Regions from separate parts of the Homo sapiens genome. Here region 1 is linked to region 2. A link means that fine-mapping ties the variant in region 2 to the expression of a gene that starts in the linked region. Tissue or cell type: whole blood. Region 2 holds a variant in brackets; the other region holds the start of a gene. All regions are shown on one strand. Distances are from middle to middle.

What was found. PIP is the estimated chance that this variant, and not a neighbour inherited with it, causes the effect.
Region 1: it holds the start of RAPGEF1, and the variant in region 2 is fine-mapped to the expression of RAPGEF1 in whole blood (INTERVAL, PIP above 0.99).

The regions. Positions count from the first base shown.
Region 1 is chr9:131,737,886-131,743,030 of GRCh38, reverse strand. RAPGEF1 (Rap guanine nucleotide exchange factor 1) reads left to right here and starts at 2,955. Exons shown (of 27, transcript NM_001377935.1): 1 at 2,955-3,261. The coding sequence starts at 3,201. RefSeq lists silencers at 2,732-2,991, 3,142-3,191, 3,242-3,571.
Region 2 is chr9:131,633,440-131,638,584 of GRCh38, reverse strand. All of the region lies in intron 5 of RAPGEF1 (Rap guanine nucleotide exchange factor 1), which reads left to right. Among named protein-coding and RNA genes, the nearest start is that of PRRT1B, 90 kb to the right of the region's middle. RefSeq lists an enhancer at 1,629-1,923. The variant A/G (reference allele first, on the strand shown) is at 2,204.

The DNA.
Region 1 (5,145 bases), 100 kb before region 2:
TTTGTCATTGGATATGTCATAATTTATTAAATATATTTGTGTTCTCACAAACCCCTGACTGCACCTAGTATCCATGCAGTCTAGTTTTCTACTTTTCAACCAGGATTTTGGATTTAAAATATCGGCTCTTCTCAGCTCAGAAGCCTAGAAGGGTTGGGGGCAGCATTGAGTGTGTTTTGGGGTTGGGCCTGGGACCAGGGGCCAGTTTTGCCTGGTAAGGCATCTGCCAAGAGGGCTGAACAGGGCCACCCTGGATCAGAGCATCCATTCATCAGGTGGAAGAGGGAAATGAATTTGTCAATCTTTGGATTTGCCTTTGACCTCTAGAGGGCTGCAACTGATGAAATGATGATGGGAAATTTGGCTGCCATCTATGACCATCTCCTTTTTTTTTTTTTTAAAGAGGGAGTCTCGCTCTGTCACCCAGGCTGGAGTGCAGTGGCGCGATCTTGGCTCCCTGCAACCTCTGCCTCCCAGGTTCAAGTGATTCTCGTGCCTCAGCCTCCTGAGTAGCTGGGACTACCAGCGCGCACCACCACGCCCGGCTATTTTTTGTATTTTTAGTAGAGATGGGGTTTCACCATGTTGGCCAGGCTGGTCTCGAACTCCTGAACTCAGGTGATCTACCCACCTCGGCCTCCCAAAGTGCTGGGATTACAGGTGTGAGCCACCACACCCGGCCTGACTAGCTCTTAGTTGTGGAATCGGTGACCCTTTAGACTGTCCAGGGAGATGGGAATAAGAATCTCTCACAACATTAGCAGTTTTTCCTCCTCCCTGCACCTCCCCCAAATCCTGTCCCCATCACTAGGTTATTTAATTTACTTATTTTGGGGGAAACAGGAGGGAAAACTAGCCCAGGTGGTGCGTGCTACTTCTTTGTATTCCATCTTAGACTAACAACAGGAAGCAGGCAGCAGAATTGCCCCACATTGGAACATCACTTGCGTTACTAATTTGTTGTTATTTACTACTTGTATTATAGGATTTAACTTTGACTTCCCAGCTAAGTTGTGAACTCTTTGGAGGGAAGCACCAATTGTGCCCACTTTTGTAGGGCCCACAGAACCCGAAATAGTGCTTAGACTTAGCAGATCCTTTGATTCTTAAATGACTTTTTTTTTCCTTTTTTTTTTTTTTTTTTTTAGCCAGGGTCTTCCTCTGTCACTCAGGCTGGAGTGCAGTGGTGCAATCATGACTCCCTGAAACCTCTGCCTCCAGGGCTCAAGTGATTCTCCCTCATCAGCCTCTCAAGTAACTGGGACTACAGGCAGGTGCCGCCGTGCCTGGCTAATTTTTGTATTTTTAGTAGAGACGGAGTTTCACACATTGCCCAGGCTGGTCTCGAACCCCTGGGCTCAAGTCATCCACCCACCTCAGCCTCCCAAAGTGCTGTGATTGCAGCCGTGAGCCACTGTGCCCAACCACGACTTTTTTTTTTTTTTTGAGACGGAGTCTCGCTCTGGAGCCACCAGGCTGGAGTACAGTGGCATGATCTCGGTTCACTGCAACCTCCATGTCCTGGGTTCAAGAGATTCTCCTGCCTCAGCCTCCCAAGTAGCTGGGACTACAGGCGTGTGCCACCATGCCCACCTAATTTTTGTATTTTTAGTAGAGATGGGGTTTCACCATGTTGGCCAGGATGGTCTCAATCTCTTGACCTCGTGATCCACCTGCCTCGGCCTCCCAAAGTGCTGGGATTACAGGCGTGAGCCACCGTGCCCAGCCACGACTTTTAATGAACTCATTTCCACACTAGAAAAGTTCCACAGCTGAGCCCCAGGGTGCCCTTCTGGATGTCAAATAAGCAGGGCAGGCAGGGTGTGCTGTGTCCCTGAGGGAGTTGGGCCCAGGCCAGCATGGAGGCTCTAGGCCTCAGGGGACATTTAGGCCTGAGTAGGGCCAACCCCAGCCCGGGACAGGTGGCTCTCGCTGGCAGGGTGACTGAGTCCCACATGCAGGGCTGGGGTGGAGAATGAATCCTCCGCCTTGGCATAGACCTTGGGCCAGCAGAGGGCTTTCATGCCAGAGTGGACTCATTCCCCGGCTGGAGCCTCTGGGCTGGCAGGAGGTGCTATGAGGCCACTCCCAGGCCCTGGTGTGGGGTCTCCAATTAAGAAGGGGGTGCGGGCAGGGTGCAGTGGTTCACACCTGTAATCCCAGCACTTTGGGAGGCCAAGGTGGGTGGATCATGAGGTCAGAAGATCGAGACCAGCCTGGCCAACATGGCGAAACCCCGTTTCTACTAAAAATACAAAAATTAGCTGGGCATGGTGGCATGTGCCTGTAATCCCAGCTACTCAGGAGGCTGAGGCAGGAGAATTGCTTGAACCCGGCAGGCAGAGGTTGCAGTGAGTCGAGATCGCGCCACTGCTCTCCAGCCTGGCGACAAAGTGAGACTCGGTCTCAAAAACAAAAAACAAAACAAAAAAGGGGGTGCTGCATCTCTGGTTTGGGGGAGGTCAGGACAGGCTCCCAGCCAGCAGAGCTTGTTGAGTCCTGGTGAGAGTGAGTTCTAGGCCCTGGTGTGGAGCCTCTGGCCCACAGGGGATGCTGGGTCCGGGATGATGCTAGGGTGGGGTGGGCGTCAGTTCCACGTCCTGGGGTGGAAAATCTGACCCAGGAGGGTTCTCTGTGTCTCTGGTGAGGGGGCAGGCCAGGCTCTTGGGCAACCGAGGACCCTGGGTTGGAGCTGTCAGTCCCAGGTCTGGAGCTGGTGACTCTGGTCCCACAGCAGAGGAATGCGGAGTCCCAGGCGGGGTCGGCCCCACACCCCAGGCCCCAGGCCCCGGCGTGGGGACTCCGGCTCGGCAGGGGGCGCTGCGTCTCGCGCGTCGCGCGGGAGGCTCGGGCGGCTCCGGGCCCACAGGGGGCGCTGTGGCGGCGCGGCGGGCGCCCGGCAGGTGGCGCTGTGGCCGTGGCCGCGGCCGAGGCCCGGCGGGCGGGCGGGCGGCGTCGCTGCGCTGCGGCCGGCTCGCGGGCCGGGGGAGCGGCGGCGGGCGCGCGGGAGGCGGAGCGGCGGCGGCGGGCGCGGCGGGAGCGGCTGGGCCCGGGCGGGCTGGAGCGCGGTCGCCGAGCGCAGGGCCGCGGCCGCGCGGAGCCCGCCATGCCGGCGCGGGTCTGAGGCGTGGCGAGCCAGGGCCGAGGCGAGCGGCGGGCGCGCCGCCCCTGTCGCCCCGCGGCGGCCCGGCCCGGGCCCGATGAGCGGCGGCCTCGGCCTCCGGCGCAGCCCGGAAATGTCCGGCAAGATCGAGAAAGCAGGTGAGGCGCGGGCGTGGGGCGGCTCCCTCCGGCCGGGCCCGGCCCTGGGGCTCCGCCGCTCCCCGGGCCGAGCGCGGGTCGCCCGGGATGTGCGGCCCTCCGTGCGCCGGGGCGGGGTGAAGCCACCGAGGCCTCGCCGGGGCGCCTGGCAGCTTCTCCTCCAGGCCCATTGCCTGCCGGGCGCGGGGGGAAGCGGCCGCTGCGGGGGCGCCAGGGGCCGGGCCGGGCGGGGCCCCTGCAACCCGGGGCCGGGCGCGCTAGCCGCTCCGCGGTCCCCGGGAACTTCCGAAAATGGCTCGAGCCCCAAGCAGGGGAAGAACAGCCCGGGCCGCGTGCTGCTGCGGCTGCAGCGATCGGTGCCCGGCCTGGGCTCGGCGCTAGGAGGGTGAACCCAGCTGAGCTGTAAAATGTGTCATTTCTAACGAGCTTCGAGTTTAACGAGAAGCGTCCACTTCGGTTGCTTCAAAGGAAGCAGGCTGGATGAGTGGGGGTATTTTGAGGAGGTAGTCAAGTTTCCCCTCCCCACCCCGATCAAGCTCAGCTCTGCAAGGAGGGCAGGTGGGGGACCGGTGGGTTGGAGTAGATGGTAAATCTTGATGCAGACCTCGTCTCTTTGTGTGTTCCTAGAAATCTGGGGGAGTTACCTTCCGAGTCCCTGGGTTTGCCTGTCCTGGAAATAGAGTCTCCAAAGATTCAATGACTGTCGAGCCTGTGGGGCCCCAGGCTTTATTAGCCTGCAGCACCTTGCAGGGCAAATGCGAATTCTTGGGTCTAAGGTGAAGTGGGCGGGTGCTCCTGGGCTCCTGTACTGGGAGCATGCCCTGTGGTCATAACCCCGGTAGCAGGTTAGCTTGGCGGCTGAATGAGGGAAAGCAGATTTTTAGGGAGCTGCAAAGGAGGTCTGTGGCTTTGATTGTGGAAGTTGCTTATGTTTCCTGGGTTGAATCTGGGATACTTCTGTGGGGTGCACCCCTGCAGCGGACCCACAAGGCAATATGACTTTTGCAGGCTGTGGTTGAAGCACAGAAGGACATTTTTGTAGGCTTTATTGAGGGTTTACTATATATCTAACTCTTAGCACCTAAAATGCATTGCTTCTTAAATTTTTGAAGCTAGTCTGTGGGAAAGAATATGGTCCCAGTTTTACAGGCTCAGAGAGGTTCAGTGAGTTCCGGCTGTCCAGACAGCAAGAGGGCGGCAGGCCCCTAGTATATTCATTCCTGGCCCTCTGACCAGAAGCCAGGGTGCTTTTCTCAGGGGCAGGGCGCTTGGGTTCAGGTGCCATTTCTTGAGTATTTTTCTCACTGAATTTGAGCCCCCACAGCCTTGCCGAGTGACCATGAGTCGCCATCCTGTACACCTGCTGCTCCAGAAATAACTTGGGTTCATCTGTGCAGCATTTCTCAGGAACTTCTTGTATAGTGTCTTGTCAGAACGGTACTGTTGGGAAACTTGGATAATTTATTTTAAAAAGAACATTCACTGAGTTCTTTTATAAGAACTTTATAATATATAAGATTATATTATATCTTTTTATATCTAATATAAGATTATATTATGTTTTATATCTTTATAATATAAGAATATTCTATGTTCATTGTCAAAACTTGGAAATCACAGAAAAGTAAAATGAACCGGATTGGAAATCATCTGTCAGCCAGGTACAGTGGCTCACGCCTGTAATCCCTGCATTTTGGAAGGCCAAGGCAGGAGGATCACTTGAGCCCAGGAGTTTGAAACAAGCCTGGGCAAAATGGCGAGACCTCATTGCTACTTTAAAAAAAATTTTTTTTTTTTTTTTTGAGACGGAGTCTTGCTCTGTTGCCCAGGCTGGAGTGCAGTGGTGCGATCTCGGCTCACTGCAAGCTCCGCCTCCTCCTGGGT
Region 2 (5,145 bases):
CCTGCTGGTGCTTGTCACATAAGAGCTTGCTCCTGACCTTCAAACATTAGAATGTCTTTCTGCGTCTCTGGTGTTGGTGCGCTCTATCCCATAACTACTTACTTCTCTCAGGACTGGTGCGAATGGCTCTTAGGGAAAAGCTGTCTAGAGCAGTCAGCCCTTACTGAGCACTGCATTAAATCTTAGTGAGTCTTCGTAGCATCGTGCTGGCTGAGCATGCTTGCCAGCTAGACAAAATGCAATGGAGATCGTTTTCACAATGACTTTAAGCAAAGCTCCCAGCATGTCATATCAGCACTACCTTTTCATGTTCTGGGAGCTTCTAGGATTCTTGGTAGAAAAGCAGGAGTGAGATGAGTAAGAAATGGAACTTTCTGTATTTACTTGATATCCGTGATGTGGTCTGTGTATTTGCTATCCAGAGAAGTCAGAAACAGCATAAGAAATTGTGAATCCTAGTTAAGATGGGAAGCAAAGGCCATAGAAGGTCTGGAATTGGGGTCAGGGGGACAAATCCTAATAGAGAAAATAAGTCCTAGCGGATGGGAAGCAAGACAGAATGTTGGACATGAACCAGGTAAGGGCCTTTGGGTCAGGGCCAGGGCTGCAGGCAGCAGGACAGTGGAAACCCCGCTGTTGTGTGAGGCCATATAATGTAGTAGAAAGGGGCCAGCCTTAGCACCTGGCTAGATTTGAATCCCAAGTTCACCACTTCGTAGTCTATGAACTTGAACAGTTTACTCAACTGCTCTGCACCTTAAGTAACTCTTTTATGAAATAGGTATAATAATAGCATCGTGCATCTCAGGGTTATAGGGAAGATTACACTAGTCAATACACATAATGCTTCTAGAACAGCACCTGGCACATACGGAGCAGTCAGGCCTTAGCTGCTATTTATTATTAATTATGTGGTGCTAGATGCATGCTTTGTAAACAGATCTCTTGGCTTGAAAAACCTGTGTCCCTCTCCTTTCTGGACCCCTCAATCCAAAATTATAGCTGAGGTGTTTACCCCAGGTCAAAAAAAATTCCTTCCCACTCAACGAGGCTAACAAATTCCTGAAAACTGCCTCCTTGGCTTAACATTCCCCAGCAGCTCTGGAGAGTAGAATAAGGACCCCCAAAGGACTTAAATTATAGAGAGAGGCTGAGAAAGCATTGCTCAGCATTGCAAATTGCTCCAGAATGAAATATGTGTTTGCCAGGACATCTGGGTGGCCCTCCAACCCCAGCAGCATTTAAGGGGAGGCTGACGTGTCTGCTGGGGCCATAGAGTTCATGTAAAAGGGGCTTGCCTAGATGACATCAATATTTTCCTCTGAATTCTCCCATGTTCTCCTTTTTTTTTTTTTTCTCTGAGACGGAATGTCACTCTGTCACCCAGGCTGGAGTGCAGTGGTGCGATCTCGGCTCACTGCAACCTCTGCCTCCTGGGTTCAAGTGATTTTCCTGCCTCAGCCTCCCGAGATGCTGGGATTACAGGTGTGAGCCACCACACCCAGCTAATTTTATATTTTTAGTAGAGATGGGGTTTCACCATGTTGGCCAGGCTGGTCTCGAACTCCTGACCTCAGGTGATCTGCCCGCCTCGACCTCCCAAAATGTTGGGATTACAGGTGTGAGCCACTGCGCCCAGCCTCCCCATGTTCCCTTCATTCCAAAAAGTTACTAGTATCTGCTTAGGGCAGCGAGACTCAAGGATGTAGCCCAGGGTGGCTGTTGTGATCAGAGCTGATGGCCCTTTCCAGGATTTGGAGGACAGGCACGTACATTATCATATCTGGTCCTCACAGTAGCACACTGGGTTCAGCAGAGCAGAGTGGAACGTGGCCTGGGGCTTTATCAGCAGCCCTGAGTCACTCTGGCCCACCCACCCCTGCTGTTCCTGTCTAGGCTTCTGAAAATGCTATTATTGAAAATTGTTATTCTTCAGGTAACATTGTTAAGGTTTCCTTCTATCGAATTGATTCTGATGAGATGTTCACAAGTTAGAGCAGCCAAAACAGAGGAGAATGAGTTTCCACTCATAAAGCTCTGTGGCAGTCCCAAGTACATTTCCTCTATGGAGTCATTACAGCACCACTTCATTAGTAGAAAGGCATGTCTGAAAGAAAAATTTCCTTGATTTTTCAAAGTGACTGGGGAAAAAAAAAGGAGAGAGAAACCTATAGGTTATGAACTTGTCAATGTCAGAGCAAAT[A/G]ACTTTTCCACAATTGCTTTAAAAATATTTTAGCCAGAACAAAGATTCTCTAGGTGAGAAGCTTTACAAATTCAGTTTTGTTTCATTTATTCAAGAAGCATTTAGTGAGAACCTTCTATATGCCAGGCAATGAGAGATAATAGGAAATATGAGCAAAGCTGGCACAGACCCTGCCCTATGGCACTTACAGTCTAAGGGGGGCAGGACCGTAAACACAAAGGCACACCCATGTGGTATAGCGCTGCCAAGGAAGATGGCACAGGGTGTGATGAAAGGGTATGATGACCTTCCTTTCTCAGGGTGGTCAGAGACGCTTCCCCAAGGAAGAGACAGGCCAGCATCTGGAGGATGGACAGGAGCTGCCTGTGGCTGGGAGCTTTTCATGCTGGAGTCATTACAGACAGTGAGAGTGATCGAGACACTGTGACGCTGGCATTTGTTGTTATTGTCTAATAGTAATAACAGCTAACATTTATGGGGTGCTTTTTGTACACTGTCCTCACTTAATACTCATGACAACCCTCCATAATAGGCATAAATGGCTGCCCCTTGCCCCTTTCACAGGTGTGGAGACTCAGGCTCAGGTGGAGCAGTAGTCAGTGGCAAGGCTGTGATTCCCACCCCCAACCTGCTGCCCCCTCCCCGGCTCCTGTGCACCATGACACCCTGAGCTGCTGCCTCCCATGGGAGGACAGGATTCTCTGCACTCCCACCTCCAAGCTAGCTGGCTTCCAGCCTCTCTCACCGTCCCTTTCAGGCCTGGGACACCTTAAAAGCCCATGCCCTGGTGGCGTGAGAGAGCCTCCCCCAGCTGGGAGGGACTGGAGCTGTGCAGAAGGGAAATGCACTCATGAGGATGTTGTCAGCCCACTTGGAGGAGGGGCGTTGGACGTTCTTACACTGACTCACCGTTGTTTACGTAACCCATTCAGTTGTTCAAGGGAGTCTTTCCTCTTTTTTTTTTTTTCAAATGATTGAACATGGGTTGTAAAACAGGATTACTTTGGTTTTGTCCCTGAATGCATGGTAGCATTTATCATTTAAACCTCCACATAAATGCCACTTGTTCAAGCTGTATAACCTTGGGCAAGTTACTTCCCTGAGTTTCAAGTAGGTTTTAAAATATTTACCCTGAAGATTTGAGGAAATTCAGTAAGATAAAGTATATAAAGTACCTGGTAAGAACTAGGTGACCAGGAGGCAGTGGGGAAACAGTGTTACCTGGAGAAGTGTTCATTTCTAACGGCTCACAGTGACCATTTTTGACAGTGATTATGGCTCTTTTCCAGGTAGTCTTATCATCTCAGGTAAAAGATAGACCCCTGTCCCCTCATCTGGCTCTGGGGCTGCTTTTCCACCGGGAGCCTGTAGCTCAGAGCTGATTATGACTCTTGAAGGAAGGAAATCTGAGGAATTTAAAGACCCTCAATGTTTTTCTCTGAGAACCACACCCAGCCTAGCACCTGGATGCTGGGGGGCCGAGCCACTCGAGGCCAAAGAGATATCCCAGCATGATCTTTTGAAATCGGTACCCCACCTCTTCCCAACTTCACCAGGTAATTTACTGTGTTACTTGAGCACCAGAGCTGTATTTTGACTTGTCAACTGTTATTTAAGCCCTTCCTTCTCTGTGATCATTTTCTTTTTTTTTTTTTTTTTTTTTTTTTTGAGACGGAGTCTCACTCTTGTTGCCCAGGCTGGAGTGCAATGGCATGATCTGGGCTCACTGCAACCTCCGCCTCCTGGGTTCAAGTGATTCTCCTGCCTCAGCCTCCCAAGTAGCTGGGATTACAGGCGCGTACAACCATGCCCAGCTAATTTTTGTATCTTTAGTAGAGACAAGGTTTCACCATGTTGGCCAGGCTGGTCTTGAACTCCTGACCTCCAGTGATCCGCCCACCTAGGCCTCCCAAAGTGCTGGGATGACAGGCGTGAACCACCGCGCCCGACCTATGATCATTTTCAGTATGAATAAAATGAACATGGAAATAAAGTATTACATATTTGGAGAGCTACTTTTCCAAATACCGTTTTTGACTTTTGAAAACTGATTTTCAGTGACCAGTCGGCAGTTTCCAGTCACTGCTGTAGACATAGACTCTAGAGTAGTCTCTTCTTCTTTTTGTTCTGAGACAGTCTCACTCTATCGCCCAGGCTGGAGTGCAACAACGGCACAATCTTGCTCACTGCAACCTCCGCCTTCTGGATTCAAGCAATCCTCCAGCCTCAGCCTCCGGAGTAGCTGGGACCACAGGTGCATGCCACCACGTCCAACTAATTTTTGTAGAGGCAGATTTTTACCATGTTGCCCAGGCTGGTTTTGAACTCCTGGGCTCAAGTGATTCACTTGCCTCGGCCTCACAAAGTGCTAGGATTACAGGCATGAGCAACCACGTCTGGCCTTTTTCAGTCTTTTCTAACTCGTGCCTCAGGACAATTAAAAAGTCTGACATCCCTCTCAAAAAATTCTACCTTCAGTAGGAGGTGTTGGGCTCATGCCAAATTATAAATGGTCAACTTTCAATGAGATTAGGGTGTTAGCACAGTAGCCAGATATGTGCACATTTTAAGGTTTCTCCTCTGTGATAGTTAAGGCAAGTCAAGACTAAAGACCTTCTGTCTAGGCAGGGAGATAGGTGGTAAATTTAAAAAGCAGCCCGCCCCTTTTATAGTCTTTTCAAGCCTAGGCCACGCGAGCTAGTGTAGGGAGCGTCATTGGGATCATGACGTCATCTTTGAATTTGGGCACATGTCTGCACATGTGTGCCTGTCATTCCAGGATTGTTTTGCCATTGTTCATTAGTTGAGTTCACAGCTGCCTCTCCAGAAAGATGACGATCTAATTATAATTGCTCATGAATCAATGAAGAACCAGGAATGTTTTCCTGTATCAACAGATGCAAACAACACAGACTTCTCTCTGTTCCTTTTGCCCTGCTTGT